Regions from separate parts of the Homo sapiens genome. Here region 1 is linked to region 2. Evidence: fine-mapped expression QTL. A gene starts in region 2. The other region holds a variant in brackets. All regions are shown on one strand. Distances are between the middles of the regions. Region 1 overlaps MAMLD1 (mastermind like domain containing 1). Region 2 holds the start of MAMLD1 (mastermind like domain containing 1).

Evidence for each region. PIP is the estimated chance that this variant, and not a neighbour inherited with it, causes the effect.
Region 1: its variant is fine-mapped to the expression of MAMLD1 in blood mononuclear cells (TOPMed, PIP above 0.99). The same link has a PIP of 0.9 or more in whole blood.

Annotation. Positions count from the first base shown.
Region 1 is chrX:150,477,272-150,481,651 of GRCh38, reverse strand. All of the region lies in intron 5 of MAMLD1 (mastermind like domain containing 1), which reads right to left. Among named protein-coding and RNA genes, the nearest start is that of MTM1, 89 kb to the left of the region's middle. The variant G/A (reference allele first, on the strand shown) is at 2,560.
Region 2 is chrX:150,361,060-150,365,439 of GRCh38, reverse strand. MAMLD1 (mastermind like domain containing 1) reads right to left here and starts at 2,123. Exons shown (of 8, transcript NM_005491.5): 1 at 1,910-2,123.

The DNA.
Region 1 (4,380 bases), 120 kb before region 2:
CACTATGTTGCCCAGGCTGGCATTGAACTCCTGGCCTCAAGCGATCCTCCCACCTCGGCTTCTCAAAGTGCTGCGATTACAGGTGTGAGCCACTGTGTCCAGCCTTGCTTTCGATTCTTTTAGGCATATACCCAGAAGTGGAATCACTGGATCATACGGTATTTCTCTGTGTAATTTTTTGAGGAACTGCCGTACTTTTTTCCACAGTGGCTGCACTATTTCACATTCCCACCAACAATGCACAAGGGTTCCAATTTCTCCACATCCTCACCATCACTTGTTATTTTCTCTCTCTGTGTGTATGTGTTTATAATAACCATCCCAATGGGTGTCAACATTTTGGTGTTTGAAGATGTGAAACTAGAAAGCTATAGTGGAGTGCATTGTCTGTTCACATTTTCCAGAGCTCATCTTTGAAAGGATTGCCAGATAAAGGGAAAGGGTCATGGAATCATTCCCAGTTATTCCCACTCAGGGATGGGTGAGGGCCTCCCACATCGTTCAAAGCTTTGTCACATGGAAATAAATGATCATTAATCACAATTGCAAATGAGTAGTCCACCTTCATCTGTTGGTCTGCTGAGCCAGCTGGCTTTGGCAAATTCTCTTCATGGGCCACCCCGACATGGGCCTGCAGAAGAATATGTGTCTCCACAGCTACGCTCACCTCCTCTGCTCAAAACTGGAAGATGGCCGGATTTGGTAGCATGCTACAGGGGAAAAAGCTGGCCGGAACCTGAGCCTTTAGCTGCAAACTGAAAGCTCCCACAAGCAAAGCAAGAGGTGGGATAATTCCTAGTGAGGTACAGCTATCCATCTTTCAGGCCCTGAAGGCCACCTTTAGCCCAGGACTATATATATAATGTCCTGGAGCACCCACTTTTATTTTTCCTGTGCACCTAGCTCCAATAACCCAGCCAAGGCCTGTGGCTCTGTGCTTTTCGTCTGTGTGAGTCCTAGCTGCACGTTACCAAGAAACTTGGTTCACATGGGGTAAAGGAGAAAACATCGAAGAAATGGATGAATGCTGACTCTTTATTCCACTCTCTATCTTAGAAACTGTTGCTGAGATGAGAGTTAAGAGTCAGCTGTCTGAAGACACCTGCAGAGGTGAGCCTGTGGGTGAGGTGGGGTGATCTCTTTGGGCCTTTCTGCTGCTTTTGGCTTTCAACAACCTTACTGCTTTGGATGGGTGCAGCCGGCATGATAAACACTCATCTAGCAAAAAACACAACATGATAAAACAAACAAAAGCAGTGTTTGTCATTGTAGGCAAAATAACAAAATCAGATAAAATCCCAGACTGTTTCAACTCCTTAGGAAAAAGCAGAAACTTTCTTTTGGATCTGGGAGCAGGGTGCTTTAAATGTAACCAGCATTCTACCCTCTGCTATCCCCTTCAAGCTAAAAAGCAGCCAGGTCAGGCCCCACATAGTTGTTTTACAGGGCAGGCCCAGATCGTGGGATTTGTCAATCCCTAAGGGACAGAACAGGCTAAAAGTACAAATAGACTCGGGAAAGGATTCCATAAATCCACGATATGGGACCATGAGTGGATCTGAGAGTCAGAAGCTGGAAGTGAGAGTCAGAAGTGGATCTGAGAGTCAGAAGCACAGGATGGGGAGGGGAGGGTGCAGTCCAGCCCTCTGAGTACTCATCCTTTGCTCACCTGGATGGAAGGGTCACGTCTTTGATTCCCCTTGGCGCTCTGCACCATCCACTCCTGCACTCAGTGACAGTGCTGGCTGTAGGTGTTAGGGCCACAGCTGAATGGAGCAAGTCTACCGTGAGTTTCATCTGCTCTAGATCTTGTTTACATTTTGCGAACTTTTCACCTGGGGACATAGTAGTAGTAGAGCGACAGCACTTCTCTTTCATGTTTGTTGTGTGCGCAAAACTGGACTGCTCGCTCCATATGGTGTTCTGTGTTTTGGGTTTGTAGGTATTCATAAGGAGATACAGCTTAAAGCAGCACGACACAATGATTTATTTCTGTCCTCTTACGTTCTTTGAAAAGCGCAATGAGATTCCTTGCCTTGCTTTACAGTGACAAATAAGTAGGTTGTCTTAATTAACTTAGCATAAAATAATTTGTGCACTTCATTTTTAAAAGGGCTCATTTTGGGTGTCCTAACTTCAGCAAGTTTCCTTGTTTCTCTTCAGATATGTTAAGACAAAACAAACAAAAAACAAAACAAAAAACTTGACAGGAGGTTTCTGAAAATGATTGCCTCTTCAGCTTTCATAAGCCAGTTACTAAGCAATGAAAAAAATTGTATCTATTGATCTCTACTACTGATGCATCTTAAGTAGGCGGCCTTGTGCATCCCCGTAAGTTTTGGGGTTGACCACACTAACTGATGGCTCATTCCTCCAGGGGAACAATGTAAAGTCACCTTCATTTGAAAGTGTCGTCTCACTTATTCTTTAACTTTTAATAGAAAAAAAATGTTGACATTTAAAAGGTTAGCATTTAACAAGCAGCTCATTTTAAATTTCCGCTTTTTGAAAAAGAAAAATAGCTTTGAGGTGGAGGATCACTAATGGCCCTTAGAAACC[G/A]AAAAAGAAACTGAAAAAAAAACTTTTTTTTGATTCTTGGTAAGATTAATACCAAGTTCTAAGCCTGTGTTTCCCAAATTCAACAGCCCATGTGGTTTCATTTCCTGGCAATTTAGAGAGGTTAAAACAAAACATTTTCAACACTGAGATATCGGTCCCCGAATTTTCAAAATGCATGTTACACGGTGTCTAATCATAGTTCCACACAAAACAGCTAAGAAAAAGTTTCCCGAAACCAAACAGCTCTTTGCAGCTTAATTTAGAAAGAATGGTAAAACTAAGCTTGTATGTACCATCATGTTTAAATACAAAATAAGAATGCTCATTCAGGAAAACATTTCCTTGTCTGCCAGAGAATACGCACAGGGCAGGCCCCGGCTCTGACCCACGGGCTCTTTGAAATCTGCCTGGTCCCCAGTCCTTTATCTGGCAAGTGGAGGCACTTCCTTACTTATCATTTGACTGGTGGACAACACAGAGATTCCTCTAGAGGCTTCTGTTCTTGCATTTTAGCAGGACTAACCTTTGAAATAAAATCTGTGATGTTTCTCGCCAGAATTAGTAAAAGACAAAATTTCTCTGAGAACACAGACAGCAGTATTGCTCTCCCGCAAGCCTTACTCTCAAAACGAGAGAGGAATGCAGGGAAGTGAGGGAGAAGACCTGTAAGTCCAAGGTGACAGGCCCTTCCTTGAAAATATGTGGTGGATCTGATTTTGGGGTGGAGGTCATGTATTTTAGTAATATAATAATTACTTTTTGAAAATGTTAATGAGTGATTCTGAGACTAGGAAAAGGCTCACTTGCTGTCTCTGCCTCTCCTGACTCTAGTTGTAAATGGAGCAGATGTAACTTTGATCAGAATCGGAAATTCTCTTGGCCTCACTAACCTGGTTTGTTCCTTTTTGTTTTCCATGAAAAGTCATGGTTCAAATATAAAGAATTTAATTTGCAGAGCTAATTGAGACAGCAGTAATTAAAGGTTATGCCCTACTGAGTGGGCTAGTGTAGCCTTGGAAGTTCAAACCAAAAGGAATCTTGGGTTTCTGCAAAGATTCTTTTTGGAGGCTTTAGGAGTGAGAGTCAGTGGTGCAGAAGAAGGACGGAAACGAGAGGAGAGAGGGGAGGTATCCCCTCAGGATGCGTGCTCTGTGCGCCATGACTATGCAGGACCAGCTTTCCTTCCTGGCCACTCATGTACACGCTTTCCGCCCTGTTCATTGTCACTGTGTATCAGTAAGCCCTCTGCCTGAGTCTTGAAATGTCAGGCACCCCTGAGCCTGCTGCAAGCAGGTGGGGTCAGATCCACGCTGGCTGCAGGTGGAACTTAGCTCCTCCTTCCCCCTCCTCTCTGCCCACCTAAAGTCGTCCTGTGGTTGCATTTGTTATTCAGCATCCACGTAACTCCTAGAAGTTCAGCTGGCCGTGCTTAGAGGGAAGAGAAGACAACATTCTCCCCTACCCACGGTCAGGGGCACTCAGGAAACCACAGCCTGGCTTGGCGGCTCTACTTCCTTCTGGAGTCACCAACCTGTGTCTGCTGCCTTGGCTGCTCCTCAGCCACCTGGCAAAAGTCTTCCTTAACGCCCCTAAGGGACTGTCCGTGAGCACGCAGCCCCAGAGGGACTGAGCTCTCCCCTGCCCTTTCTCTCCAAGTCACCGTCCACCCCTGGGGGTCAGAGAGGAGCCTGGATGCTGAGCCGAGGCTGACTAAATTCATTCCATTGGGTTACTGGTGTTCTGGGTTTCGGGAACTTTCCTGAGAGTGACAGCTAATATCAATGGAGCATAATTGTGTACCAGGCCCTATGCCAAGCGCTG
Region 2 (4,380 bases):
CGCGCGCCCGCCAGCTCGCAGTGCAGTCCACTCGGCCGTCCCGGCCGCCAGGATTTAGGGTGTCCAGGGCTGGCAGGCCGGGCGTGCAGCGAGGGCCGGGGCTGAGGCTCCGTGCGCCTTCGTGGGTTCCCACAGAGGGTCCTCGAAACACAGCCCCCTCCCCCATCGCCTACACTTGCCCTCCTGTCCCGAGCGGCTCGAAACCACTTGGAGACAGCCGCCCCCGCCCTCTGCCTCTGCGTCCCTTTTCCCCTTCCCTCTCTCCAGCCTCCTGGGAAACAAAGGGGCTTTTTATAAAGCGGATTGTTGGCGGCGGCGGCGGCGGGGGTGGGAGGGAGGGGGGATCTATAAAGACAAGAAGAGGTGGGAGGGAGGGAAGGAAAGAAGCTGCGCGGCCTCCAGGGGCCCAGAGCTGCGGTGGCGGCCGGGAAGCCCCGGCGGGTGCACGGTCGACCCCGCCCGGCCGGTGGGCACTCGGGCGGCAACCCACGCCTGCCAAGAGCTGGGCCGCGCCGCTGCGATGTCGCTCGCCGGCTCACCGCAACCAGGGAACACAATTCCCCAGGCGCGGGCCGGGGCCGCTGGGGGCGGCGCAATTCCCGCGGGGGTCTACCCCGGGAGACCCAGGCCCTCTCCCTAGCCAACTCTTTCAAAATTGCTTGGTCTCAGGGAGACTTTGCGCCTTTGTTCCAGCGCAGCCGCCTCTAGTAAGCTCGGCTCGCTCGCCCTTGCAGACAATGTCCCGGAGCCGGCCTGGGTTTGCCTACCCGTGAGCAGCACGTTCACCGTGGGGACCGCGCCCCCGGGGGGCACCGTGGTGCCAAACAACAACGACAAGCCACCCCAGCAAAAGCAGCCCCTTCTCCCCACGTCCCCCAGCCACGCTGTGCTCCCGCCCGCTCACACACACCCACACTCCGGGTGCCCAGGTCAGCCGCACCCAGCTGCAGAAGCGCGGCGGGGCGGGAGTGAATGCTCCAGCCCGAGGCGCGTGTTTGCACAGGTTCCGATGGCTTCAGGGCCGAGCTTTCTGGCAGGCTAATCCTATTAGTGTCTGCTCAGTCCGAATTTAATCACGGATCAGAATCAGACGACATCTCCAGCTTTCCAGGAGGCTTCGGACACACTGCATTGGGACGGAGCCTGGCCAAGCCAACTGGCCGAGAAAAGTATTTGGCGGCGCTCCGGGGGGCTTCCCGCCCGCGCTAGCCGGCGCCGGGCGCCCAGCTCTGTCGTCGCGCGGATGCTGGGGAACCTGAAGCGCGGACTCTGACGCAGGGGCGCCGGGGCTGCTCCGCAGGAACCCAGTCCGGGCTGCCCTGAACACCAGCTCAGCTCCGGGCTGCGCTTCCCAGGAGTTGGCAGGGGAGGGAGTGCAGGGCAGCGGATTCGGCGCGCACACTCCACACTCTCGCTCAGAGGCGGCAAACAGCGTTGGGGTGGGGAAATCCTTCATCCAGCGCCCACTGCCTACTGGCCTGGGCTCAGGCAGCTGGCATGTGAAGGCACCGTCGCCGGTGACACCCAGGCTGCAAGCGACCCGGGGGTGCTGGGACAGAGTGGGAGCCTCCCAGTAGCCCAGCGTAGCCCGAGGAGCTTGCGCCCTTCTACCTTTCCTCCCCGGTACGTGGCTGTCCCCGCCGGATTTCAGACGCCCGACGGGCGCCGAGCCAAAGGCCGTGGTCTCCGGCGTTTCGAGCTGCGCCCAGCCCAGCCGGGCTGGTTCGAGAAGGGGGTGGCCGCCCGCAGCGCCAGGTGGGCCGTGTGCTCAGAGCAAACTTTAGGGTCTACCGACTCGAAGCACCCCTGGGACCCCGATCCTCAGCGATGGGGACCATAACTGGGGGCTACAAGTGTACCCCGGAACCCCCAGAACAGTCAGACTTCCTGCACCCGCCCTCAGCCTTACCGTGCTGCAGAGCTCCGGCGGCGGCGGGGGCAGTGTCCGAGGGGCGGGCGGCCGCCGGCGCGGGCAGCCTGGACTCAGGCGGCCGCCAAGGAACCCAGCCCTGTTGCAGATCACCCCCTGGCTAGCGGCCGGTGCCCCCGCGCCCGCCCGCCGCCGGCCGCTTCAGCTCGCGGCCAAGTTCATGCTGGCGGCGCTGCAGTGGCGGCCTCAATCTGCTCGCTCCATTCCCACCGCCCGGCTCCGCGCCGCGCGCCCGGAAGGTGGAGTTTCGGGGGTTTAAGTTACTGATAGGCATTTCTCACTGCTGTGTCACTCGGGGAGGAGGAGACACGCACGCCGCACACTCACACACCCTCACACTCACGGCGACGAGCGGCTCCGGCCTTAAAGGGGAAGCCGCGCTGCCCTGCCCGCGACCCCGCCAGCCCGAAGCCTGGAAACTCAGGGTTTCCACTCCGGGATGGGGCAGCGGGCAGCCAAAGAGCTGCGGCCGCCCGAGGGGCCTCCCGGGCCCTCCCACCAGTCTTTAGAGGAGAAAGCGGCCGCAGGCTGGCTTCGCTGTTGCAGCCTCATTTCTCCAGTCGGCTCGAACCAGGGCAGCTGGGGAGGGATCGGAGGGGCGGAAGGGGCATCGGTGCACTCACCTTGGCTGCTCCGCACTCAGTGGAGGGTGGTCTGTGCCCCCGGCGTCAGCTGGCTTGCCTAGGCGGTGCGCTGGTGGAAAGAGGCGACAGCAGGGTTAGCGGAGCGCCTCCAGCAGACAGAGCCCGCCGGAGGGCCGCAGGCGGGGCCCGGCGCGCTTGGGAAACCCGCACGCCGAAGGTAGACTTTCCGCGTCTGGGGAAAACGAGCTGGTGAGCCGTGCGTGGCCGGGACACACGAAGAGCGAGCACGGAGAGCCAAAAGCCAGCGGTCATCAGTGACAGGGCGAGAGAGCGCTCAGGACCGAGAGACCAAGAAAGACAGGAGACCGTACGAGACACAGAGAAGGCAGAGACTGAGAGACAGATACCGAGAGAGGCACCGGCGGAGATAGAGGTAGAGACACGATGAAGGGAGAGGAGAGGAGAGGAGATGAGAGGAGAGGAGAGGAGAGGAGGAAATAAGGAGAGGAGGAGAGGGACCAGAGAACAAGAGAGCTTGCAAGAGGAATGACAGATCCCCAGAGGACCCTGAAGTGTCACAGGGACGGGAGTCTCATCACAAAGTAGCCTATTCAGCCCCCATCCCCCTTCCCATTTTCACCAGAGCCTGACCCTAGGGCTAGCGGCCAGGCCCTTCTCCTCCCCTCGCCCTGGGAGGGGCACTCACCTGCAGTGGGTGGCTGCTGGGTGGGTAGCGCCAGTCCCTCCGCCCACGCATCCGCTCACCAGCTCGCGCCCTGACTGCCAAACAGACCCGCTGTGGCGGCAGCGGGGACCAGGGCTCTCAGGTGGCAGTTAGTGAACTGCATTCTCTCCATCCCGGCCGAGTGCCCCACTCCCCACTTCCCAGTCCCCCACCCTTAGCGCGGACGCTGTCGGCGTCGCCCGCCAGTACGCTTAGCTCAGAGTCCAGGCTCGCTGGCCAGTCTCCCGTTCCACTGGACCAGGGCACGCGATGCTCCCGCCCAAGCTGGGCTGGATTGGCTCCCTCCGCAGTTATCCCAAGACGGACACCTGCGGCTTCTGCAGGAACATAGGTTCCTTGGGAACTGCCGGGCGGGCCAGCGCGCCCTGTCCACCATCTGCCCTGGCGCCGAGTCCAGCGACTCCCCTCCCACCTATCCCACCTCCCGGGTATTTGGCTGCGCCCCTTCTCTAGGATCCCCTCCCCGGATGCGTTTCCTAACCTGGACTTCTCCAGCCGATGGCAGCTGCAGGGGCTGAGCACAACCCGGGAACGCCGCGTCTGCTCCGACAGCAGCAGCGCTCAGCTCCTGTCCGCACCTCTGAGTAGCAACCTGTCACCAACACATCTGGTCACGCTCAGCGGAGCCGCAGGCCACGAATAAAGGGGTGGGCCCGCCGCCCACTAGGCCCCTCCTTCCCTCCACGCCCACGCTCTCGGCCCTCGGAAAGCGCTGGGGCCACCTCCGAGAACCCAGCAAGATCCCTTCGTGGGCTACGTAGGCGCAGTGAGGCTGGGCGATTGCCTCCTAGCGTTTCACGAAGTTACCTGGAGGAAGAGCGGCGTCCAGGCCCAACCGCGAGGCACATGCAGGGGCTGTGGCTTCGCAGCCCCAGCGCTGCCAGGATGCGCCCAGCCCAACAGGGCGAGGCTGGGGGTACACAGTTCGTCAGGGCAGTTGTGAAGGAATCCGCCTTGTCTGGGTCCAGTCCTGTCTGCTCTGCAAAGGGCAAGCAGCCAGAAGAGGTTATTGCTCTCTGGTGACTGAACCTTACCTTCAAGGCCCTCCAGGGAGAGCTAGAGTCATCTCAGGGTTGCCAGTGCCCCGGTAGAACTGCGAGAGTGCGGGAGTCCCTTGAAGG